2 separate regions of the Homo sapiens genome follow, and region 1 is linked to region 2. The links come from fine-mapping of genetic effects on gene expression. A gene starts in region 2. The other region holds a variant in brackets. All regions are shown on one strand. Distances are between the middles of the regions.

Evidence for each region. PIP is the estimated chance that this variant, and not a neighbour inherited with it, causes the effect. A credible set is the group of variants that fine-mapping cannot tell apart.
Region 1: its variant is the best candidate, but not a certain one, in a credible set for the expression of MIF4GD in whole blood (TOPMed, PIP 0.68).

The regions. Positions count from the first base shown.
Region 1 is chr17:75,289,754-75,294,130 of GRCh38, reverse strand. No RefSeq gene overlaps it. Among named protein-coding and RNA genes, the nearest start is that of SLC25A19, 2.5 kb to the right of the region's middle. RefSeq lists enhancers at 4,190-4,239, 4,280-4,329. The variant A/T (reference allele first, on the strand shown) is at 2,272.
Region 2 is chr17:75,269,542-75,273,918 of GRCh38, reverse strand. It overlaps MIF4GD (MIF4G domain containing), which reads left to right and starts at 2,688. Exons shown (of 6, transcript NM_001370592.1): 1 at 2,688-2,775; 2 at 3,674-3,805. The coding sequence starts at 3,724. SLC25A19 (solute carrier family 25 member 19) reads left to right here. Exons shown (of 8, transcript NM_001126121.2): 8 at 280-927. The coding sequence ends at 468. It overlaps MIF4GD-DT (MIF4GD divergent transcript), which reads right to left and starts at 2,620. Exons shown (of 1, transcript NR_036520.1): 1 at 24-2,620. RefSeq lists silencers at 1,262-1,311, 2,282-2,941, 3,052-3,121 and an enhancer at 986-1,773.

The sequences.
Region 1 (4,377 bases), 20 kb before region 2:
TGAGCAGCATAGGGAGATCCTATGCTGTCTCTACCAAAAATTAAGGCCAGGCACGGTGGCTCATGCCTGTAATCCTAGCACTTTGGGAGGCTGAAGCAGGCAAATCACTTGAGGTCAGGGGTTTCACAATGTTGGCCAGGCTGGTCTCAAACTCCTGACCTCAAGATGACCAACCCAGCTTGGCCTCCCAAAGTGCTGGTACAGGTGTGGGCCACCGCATCTGGCCAGGAACCAATTCTTTTTTGAGACACGATGGCTGCAAACATCACAAAATGACAGACAAGCAGGCATTATGGTGTTCCTCATGGAAATACACAACACCATGTAAGTAGTCTCATTTAAAAAAAAAAAAAAAAAAAAAAAAAACGTTGGCCGGGCGCCGTGGCTCATGCCTGTAATCCTAGCACTTTGGGAGGCTGAGGCAGGTGGATCACCTGAGGTCAGGAGTTCGAGACCAGCCTGACCAACATGGTGAAATCCCATCTCTACTAAAAATACAAAAATTAGCCGGGCATGGTGGAGGGCATCTGTAATCCCAGCTACTCAGGAGGCTGAGGCAAGAGAATTGCTTGAACCCAGGAGGCAGAGGTTGCAGTGAACCAAGATTGTGCCACTGCACTCCAGCCTGGGCAACAGAGCGAGACTGTCTTTACAAAAAAAAAAATCAGGCCAGGCACAGTGGCTCATGCCTGTAATCCCAGCACTTTGGAAGGGCAAAGTGGGCAGATCACTTGAGGTCAGGAGTTTGAGACAAGCCTGGCCAATGTGGTGAAACGTCATCTCCACTAAAAGTACAAAAATTAGCCAGGTTTGGTGGCATGTGCCTGTAGTACCAGCTACTCAGGAGGCTGAGGCAGGAGAGTCGCTTGAACCCTGGAGGCGGAGGTTGCAGTGAGCCAAGATCACACTACTGTATGACTGTACTCCAGCCTGGACAACACAGCAAGATTCTGTCTAAAAAAAAAAAAAAAAAAAGGCTGGGCGCAGTGGCTCACGTCTGTAATCCCAGCACTTCGGGAGGCCAAGGCGGGCAGATCATGAGGTCAGGAATTTGAGACCAGCCCAACCAACATGGTGAAACAACCCCGTCTCTACTAAAAATACGAAAATTAGCTGGGCGAGGTGGCACATGCCTGTAATCACGACTACTCAGGAGGCTGAAGCAGGAGAATCGCTTGAACTCAGGAGGCGGAGTTTGCAGCGAGCTGCGATTGCGCCACTGCACTCCAGCCTGGAGGACAGAGTGAGACTCTGTCTCAAAAAATAAAGAAATAAATTTTAAAAATCAGGCCAGGTTCAGTGGCTGACACCTGTAATCCTAGCACTTTGGGAGGCTGAAGCAGACAGATTGCCTGAGCTCAGGAGTTCAAGACTGCCATGGGCAACATGGCAAAACCCCGTCTCTACAAAAAATACAAAAAATTAGCTGGGTGTGGTGGCGCGTGCCTGTAGTCCCAGCTACTAGGGGCTGAGGCAGAAGGATAGCTTGACCCCAAGAGGTAGAGGCTGCAGTGAGCTGAGATCGTGTCACTGCACTCTAGCCTGGGAGACAAAGTGAGACCTTATCTAAAAAAAAAAAAAGTCAAACCCAGTCTAATCAAACCTTTTAGATCTAATTACCAATTAGCAGAGAACACAAGGGACATAGGGGCCAGGTGTGGTGGCTCACGCCTGTAATCCCAGCACTTCGGGAGGCCAAAGCAGGCAGATCAGCTGAGGTCAGGAGTTCGAGACCAGCCTGGCCAACATGGTGAAACCTCATCTCTACTAAAAATACAAAAATTAGCTGGACATGATGGCGGGTGCCTGTAATCCCAGCTACTTGGGAGGCTGAGGCTGGAGAATCCCTTGAACCCAGGAGGCACAGGTTGCAGTGAGCCGAGATTGCACCATTGCACCACAGCCTGGACAACTGAGTGAGACTTTGTCTCAAAAACAGCAACAACAACAACAAACAAACAAACAAAAAACACAAGGGACACAGGAAGATGTGGAAACAACTCCATGGGGATGCGATCAGCAAAATCCAGACTAGGGAAAATGCCACAGCATAAACCACTTAATTTCTTTCTTTTAAAAAATGTATTATTTAGTTTTTGTAGAGATGGAGTGTCGCTATGTTTCCCAGGCTGGAGCACAGTGGCTATTCACAGGCACTATTTTTGCACACTACAGCTTTGAACTTCTGGGCTCAAGGGATCCTCCTCCCTCAGTCTCCCTAATATTGGGAATACAGGTGTGCACCCCCAGCCTGGCTCTATCTAGTTTCTT[A/T]AAAAAAAACAAATATAATAAAATAGAGAAAGAAAGGAAAATGAAAGGAAATGAAAGAAAACAAATTTCAAGTAAAAAAAAAGTAAAGTGGAGAAAAACAATAGATTTTTAAAAGGACTTCCAGTTGCAATGTTCAGTTCAGATCTCAACTCTTTTTCTTTTCTTTGAGACGGAGTCTCACTCTGTTGCCCAGGCTGGAGTGCAGTGGCACGATCTCGGCTCACTGTAACCTCTCCCTCCCAGGTTCAAGTGATCCTCCTGCCTCAGCCTCCCAAGTAGCTGGAATTACAAGCGCCTACCACCATGCCTGGCTAATTTTTGTATTTTTAGTAGAGACGCGGTTTCACATGTTGGTCAGGCTGGTCTTGAACTCCTGACCTCAAGCAATCCACCCACCTCAGCCTCCCAGTGCTGGGATTACAGGTGTGAGCCACTGCACCCAACCAAGATCTCAATTCAGACAAACATTTTTGTTTGTTTTCTGAGCTCTGTCACTTAGAAAAGCAAACTTGTGGCTGGGTATGGTGGCTGACGCTTGTAATCCCAGCACTTTGGGAGGCCGAGGCGGGCAGATCACGAGGTCAGGAGATCGAGACCACGGTGAAACCCCATCTCTACTAAAAATACAAAAAATTAGCCGGGCGTGGTGGCGGGCGCCTGTAGTCCCAGCTACTTGGAGAGGCTGAGGCAGGAGAATGGCGTGAACCCGGGAGGCGGAGCTTGCAGTGAGCCAAGATCGCGCCACTGCACTCCAGCCTGGGGGACAGAGCTAGACTCCGTCTCAAAAAAAAAAGAAAGAAAAGCAAACAACTTGTTTTAAGAAGGACATTTCAGCCAGGCACGGTGGCTCACACCTGTAATCCCAGAACCTTGGGAGGCCGAGCTGGGTGGATCACTTGAGGTCAGGAGTTCAAAACTAGCCTGGCCAACATGGTGAAACCCCGTTTCTACTAAAACTACAAAAATTAGCTGGGTATGGTGGTGCAGGCCTGTAGTCCCAGCTACTCAGGAGGCTGAAGCAGGAGAATCACCTGAACCCGGGAGGTGGAGGTTGCACCGAGCCGAGATCGTGCCACTGCATTCCAGCCTGGGTGACAGAGTGAGACTCTTGTCTCAAAAAAAAAAAAAAAGTTTGAGACCAGACTGACCAACATGGCAAAACCCCATCTCTACTAAAGATACAAAAAATTAGCTGGGCATAGTGGTGCACGCGTGTAATCCCAGCTACTCGGGAGGCTGAGGCAGGAGAATCGTGTGAACCCCAGAGGCAAAGGTTGCAGTGAGCTGAAATAGCACCATTGCACTCCAGCCTGGGCGACAAGAGCAAAACTGTCTCAAAAAAAAAAAAAAAAAAAAAAAAAAAAAAAAAAAAAAAAAAAGAAGAACATTTCTTTCTTTCAGAAAAGTGTAAACACTAATTCATATTTGATATTAAAAGTTTTTTTGGGGGGTCGGAGTGACAGTTTTGTGTGTGTGTGAAGCATAATGTATACGTATTAAAAAGGGAATGCTTGTCCTTTAAAGACACATACTGAAATATTTACTGGTGAAAACACGTGATGGTATTTACTTCAGAATAACGCTGGGCAGCGCGTGCGAGGTAGGTGCAGAAATAGAGGAAACAAGATTGCCCCATGAGTCGCGTAACTGCTGAGGTCGGAGAGCGACTCTACGCGGCTTCATCGGGTTATTCCACTTCTGTGTATCTTGAAATTTTCTACAATAAAAATGTCTTAAAATTGTGCGTCAAAATGATAACACGAATATAAAAATGCAATTAAAAAGTCAGGAGGCAATACTGTCGCGCAAAACCGTGACGCTAGTTGTGTGCGGGCGGTAGGATGAGTCATTTCCTCCTTCCTTTCTATATTTTCTGTCTATATACTTTTAATATTACTTTTATAATGAGAAATACTAAAACTCGGGGTGAGAGGGGGGGACACTCGTGTTTTTGCCTTCCCCGTCCCCGAGGGGACTGTTCTCATCTATTCTCTTCCCGACGTCCTCCAGCTTTTTGCTAGGCTTCCTGCCATCTTTACCAAGTTGAGATTATCCGGGTTCTGGCATTAACAGAGTTTGAGGAAAGCGGGTCAAGTCTACCGCGCC
Region 2 (4,377 bases):
CGTGGTGTTGTGTGCCTGTAATCCCAGCTACTCAGGAGGCTGAGGCAGGAGAATCACTTGAACCTGGGAGGCAGAGGCTGCAGTGAGCCAAGATTGTGCCACTGCATTCCAGCCTGGGCAACAGAGTGAGACTCTGCCTCAACGAAAAAATAAAATAATTTGCTATTTTGCATTCATTTCTTTGTCCAGCAAGTACTTCTTAAGATCTGTGATGTGCCAGGGGCTGTGTTGATGGGAGCAGAGCGGGCATCCATATTTTCATCCCTTTCCTCTCCCCAGGTACGGAGATACAAGGGCCTCATGGACTGTGCCAAGCAGGTGCTGCAAAAGGAAGGCGCCCTGGGCTTCTTCAAGGGCCTGTCCCCCAGCTTGCTGAAGGCTGCCCTCTCCACAGGCTTCATGTTCTTCTCGTATGAATTCTTCTGTAATGTCTTCCACTGCATGAACAGGACAGCCAGCCAGCGCTGAGTGCAGGAAGGACCCCAGGTCTTCCCTGGAGGCAGCCTCCTGAAGGAAGGAAGATTCAGTCTCCACTGAGAGGTGCCGTCTGGCCCTTCCCTGCAGGCCAGCTGCCCCAAGCGGGGTAGCAGCCTTGAACCCACCCAGCTGGGACACCACCAGAAGGTCCAGGGCTCTCCCCATGAGAGAATCAGAGGGAATGCAGGACGTGGTCTATGGTGAGCCAACGACACAGTGAGAAGGAGCAGGAAGTTGCTGTTTCTCCTCTGACCAGCCCACACTCCAAAGGAAACAGACGCCATCCTACACCTATCAGCCCTGCCTGCCAGGAGAACAGAACACACTCCTGGTCTGGATGGGGCTGCTGCTTGAGTGCAGAGGGCTGCGGTAGGCCCTTTGCAGGAGTCAGGTCCCTACACTTGGCCTGTTTTTCCAACCTATTTAATAGACATTAAAGCTAAACACACATTCCTTATCTTACTCCATCTCCCCTGGCACATCTGCCTACTCACAAAGTATGAGGGAAAGGACTCCTGCCTTCCTCAAATCCCATGTTCTCCATAGCGGCAGCCCTTGGCAGCTCTGCTTCTAGTGCTGGGGGAGACTCCAGGCTGAGCCAGTCACTTTCTGGGCCCCGTGCCCAGACCTTCGTGTCTGCAGACACACCACCACCCAGGCTGTCCTCTCCCAGGACCGGGCTGGTCATGGCCGTGGGGCTCCATGGAAAGCAGATCCCAGCGCCCGTGCAGGAAGTGGATGGGCCATGCTGTGGGCAGGCGTGGGTGAAGGTGCAGCCTCTCCCCAGTCTACCTCACTGACTCCTCTTTCACCCAGAGCTGGGTCAGCCTTGCTGGGTGAGGAGCTATCAGCAGGACAGGTGGCATCAGCGCCCACTGCCTGCTCCTCAGTGCAGAGCATGCTGCGGGTGCATCCTCCCCTGTAGCCCCAGAAGGGCCGTGGCTCTGAAGCAGCCCACTGATGGGGATGGCAGAAGGAAGGGGCGGGCACGTAGCCTGGTGAGGGCACAGCTGGTGCCTGGGGTGTTACCAGAGCAGAGGGACACCCACAGGCGGAGAGGCAGAGGAGAAACCAGTTCCAGGCTGAGGGGAGGTCTCCAGAACATGACCTCCACCCTTCCCTCCATCTGCCCGGCCTGTAGGGTTGCTCCGACCTGGGAAGCCCTCCATTCTGCCTCCCTCTCCAGCCTTGGAAAGAGGCACCCACTGGGAGCCGGCGCTGGCCCTGGCCCTGGCGTGTGGGTCCTGGGCTCCTCCTCGCACCATCCTTCCCTGCCTCTGGTCTGGGATTTTGGGGTCTGTCTGGGCCCTGAATGCTGGGGCTTCCTGGCTCTGGGCTGCTGGTTCCCAAGGTCCAGGCTGCGGCGGGGGCCACGAGGATGCAGCTGCCTGAATGCATTTTTTATGAAATTCCGTTAAAGTTTCTTCTCTTCATCTTTCCTGCCCATTGGTTTCTTTTGCTGCAGCTGAGCGTTCTCTTCCTCCTCCGTTTTCGGTGACCACTTTGGCGGTTCTTTTAAAAGGAGGCGAGAACGCGGGCAGCGCCGGCAGCGCTCCTCCCGGTCGCGCGGCAGGAGCGGCGGCAGTTCTTCCCCCACTTCTAGGTGCCCTCCTGTCACCCAGGGCAGACGCCGGGCGGTGGGGTCCGCGCCACTTCAGGGGCATTCGCAACAACCGACGGCCGCGAGTTGCCAATGGGGCCCCTTTCTCGGGGCTGCCCCTATGACCTGAAACTCGCTTCGCCCATGTCCTCCTTGGAGCGGGAGAGGGTTGTGGCTGGCCCCGGCCCTGCAGCCCCTGCCTTCTCTACCTGGGTTGGGGGAGCGGGGAAAGTGGTGCGACCAGGGCTGATGCTGTTCCTCCTGCCACCAGGTCCCCACCACGCGCTCTGCAGGCTCTTCCCACGCCGCGCAGCCCAGCGGTGTCTCCCGGCCCAGTGCACCTGAGCTCCGGGGAGGGCTGGGTGCGGGGCCACGCGCAAGATCGAGGTGCCGGCGGGTCCGGCGTGGGCCCGGACACGGCCCAGGCGCACCGGGTGAAGGGGTGACGAGCCAAGCGAGTTCCGCTTGCGGCTGGGTGGCAGCGTCGCAGGGTCCCACGCAGGCGGCGCGGCTTCCGGGGCGGCCTGGAGGCCAGGGCAGTGCCCCGGGGGCCCGGCAGGTGGCGCGGGCGAGCCGACCCTTCCCCGGCGCCGCGCGAGGAGATGAGCTCACGGCGGGCCCCGCAGCGCCGGACGCTGGTTGCGCGCTCCCAGGCGCCGAGCGGCCCCGGGCACGCGCGCGCGCCACCGGCCCGGCAGGTGGGTCCCGGCTCCCACGCCGCCTCTCCCGCCCGCGGGACCCTGGGCCGTGGGCTCCGCAGCCCGCCCTGTGCCTCCGGGAGGGGCGTTCCGGGCGCGGGGGGAACGGCCGAGGGCTGGAGACCCTAAAGGCGCCTCCTACGGCCAGAGGGGAGCCTCCGGCGGGAGCCACCTCTCCGGGGCGCATCATCCTGCCCCCCAGTAAGAGGAAGGCTCCAGAATGGAGCTCAGGAATTAGGAGTCTCGAGTGCGTAGGGCCGGGTTACTGCCACTCGGGAGCCGATCCGACCAGCCTGTCCCAGGGAGAAGCTGGCACGGGTCTGGGGAGTTCAGGCTGCTCCCGGCAGGGGCGGCGGACAGGGCGCCTGCGTCCCCACCCACGCAGGCCGGCCCCATCCGGGGGATGCAGCGGCGGGTGTTGAGACCGAAGGACTCGGCGAAAGCCAGAAAGAGAGGGTTGGGGAGAGGGGCTCGGAGACCTGCTGGGGACAGAGTCGCACCGCTTGGAGTTCCCAGCCTGGCCCTCACCCGGCATCTTCCTGGGCCAGCAACGTCAGGCCGGTTTATTTAAGCAACTGTAACGTCCGCCCGCACACACCCTGCCCCAGTCTACTCCTGCCTCCTGCTGGGACTGGAGGGTGGGCGCTTTCCTGCTTCAGCTTCTCGCTCTTGTGTAATCCCACAAGCGAGGGATTTCTAAACTGAGCAGCAGGTGCCTGGCTGATGCCCAGTCCCCACCAGAAGCCAAGCCTGGTGGGCCTTCAGCCAACCACCGCACGCCACGGACCGCCCAGGAGTCCCTGTCCCGAGCGCGCCGTCAGCCCCGTCCAGGGCCTGCAGGACGGAACCCGCCCTGCGCTCCACACCTGAGGCCGCTCCCTTCGCCTCTTCTCCTCAGGTGCTGTCCTTATTCCCAGCCCAGTCAAGAGCTACCGGGGCTGGCTAGTCATGGGGGAGCCCAGTAGAGAGGAGTATAAAATCCAGTCCTTTGATGCAGAGACCCAGCAGCTGCTGAAGACAGCACTCAAAGGTGAGCACGGGACCCCTCCTGAGCTGGGGTCAGGAGCTACAGAGAAGGGCCCCTGTGGGCAGCACCAGAGGCTGAGCCTGGTGAATGCCTCCACCCCTCCCCTCATTCTCTGACGATAGGAGTCGGCAACGTAATTCTTGAACTGGAAGACAAGCTACATTGAGGCCATTATTTTGGAGTATGAATCACAGTCACCTCTCAGACTGTAAAGACTGTTTTAAAAGTTTAACCATAGGGCTAGGCGCAGTGGCTCATGTCTGTAGTTCCAGCACTTTGGAAAGCCAAGGTGGGCAGATTGCTTGAGTCCAGGAGTTCAAGACCAGTCCCGGAAACATGGTGTAAACCCCATCTCTACAAAAAAAAAAAAAAAAAGAAAGAAAAGAAAAATTAGCCGGGCATAGTGGCAGGCACCTGTGGTCCCAGCTACTTAAGATGCTGAGGTGGGAGGATTGATTGAGCCTGGGAGGGTGAGGGTGCCATGAGCCATGATCCTGCCACTGCACTCCAGCCTGGCTACAGAGCGAGACCCTGTCTCAAAAAAAAAAAAAAAAAAAAAAAAAAAAAAGTTTAAC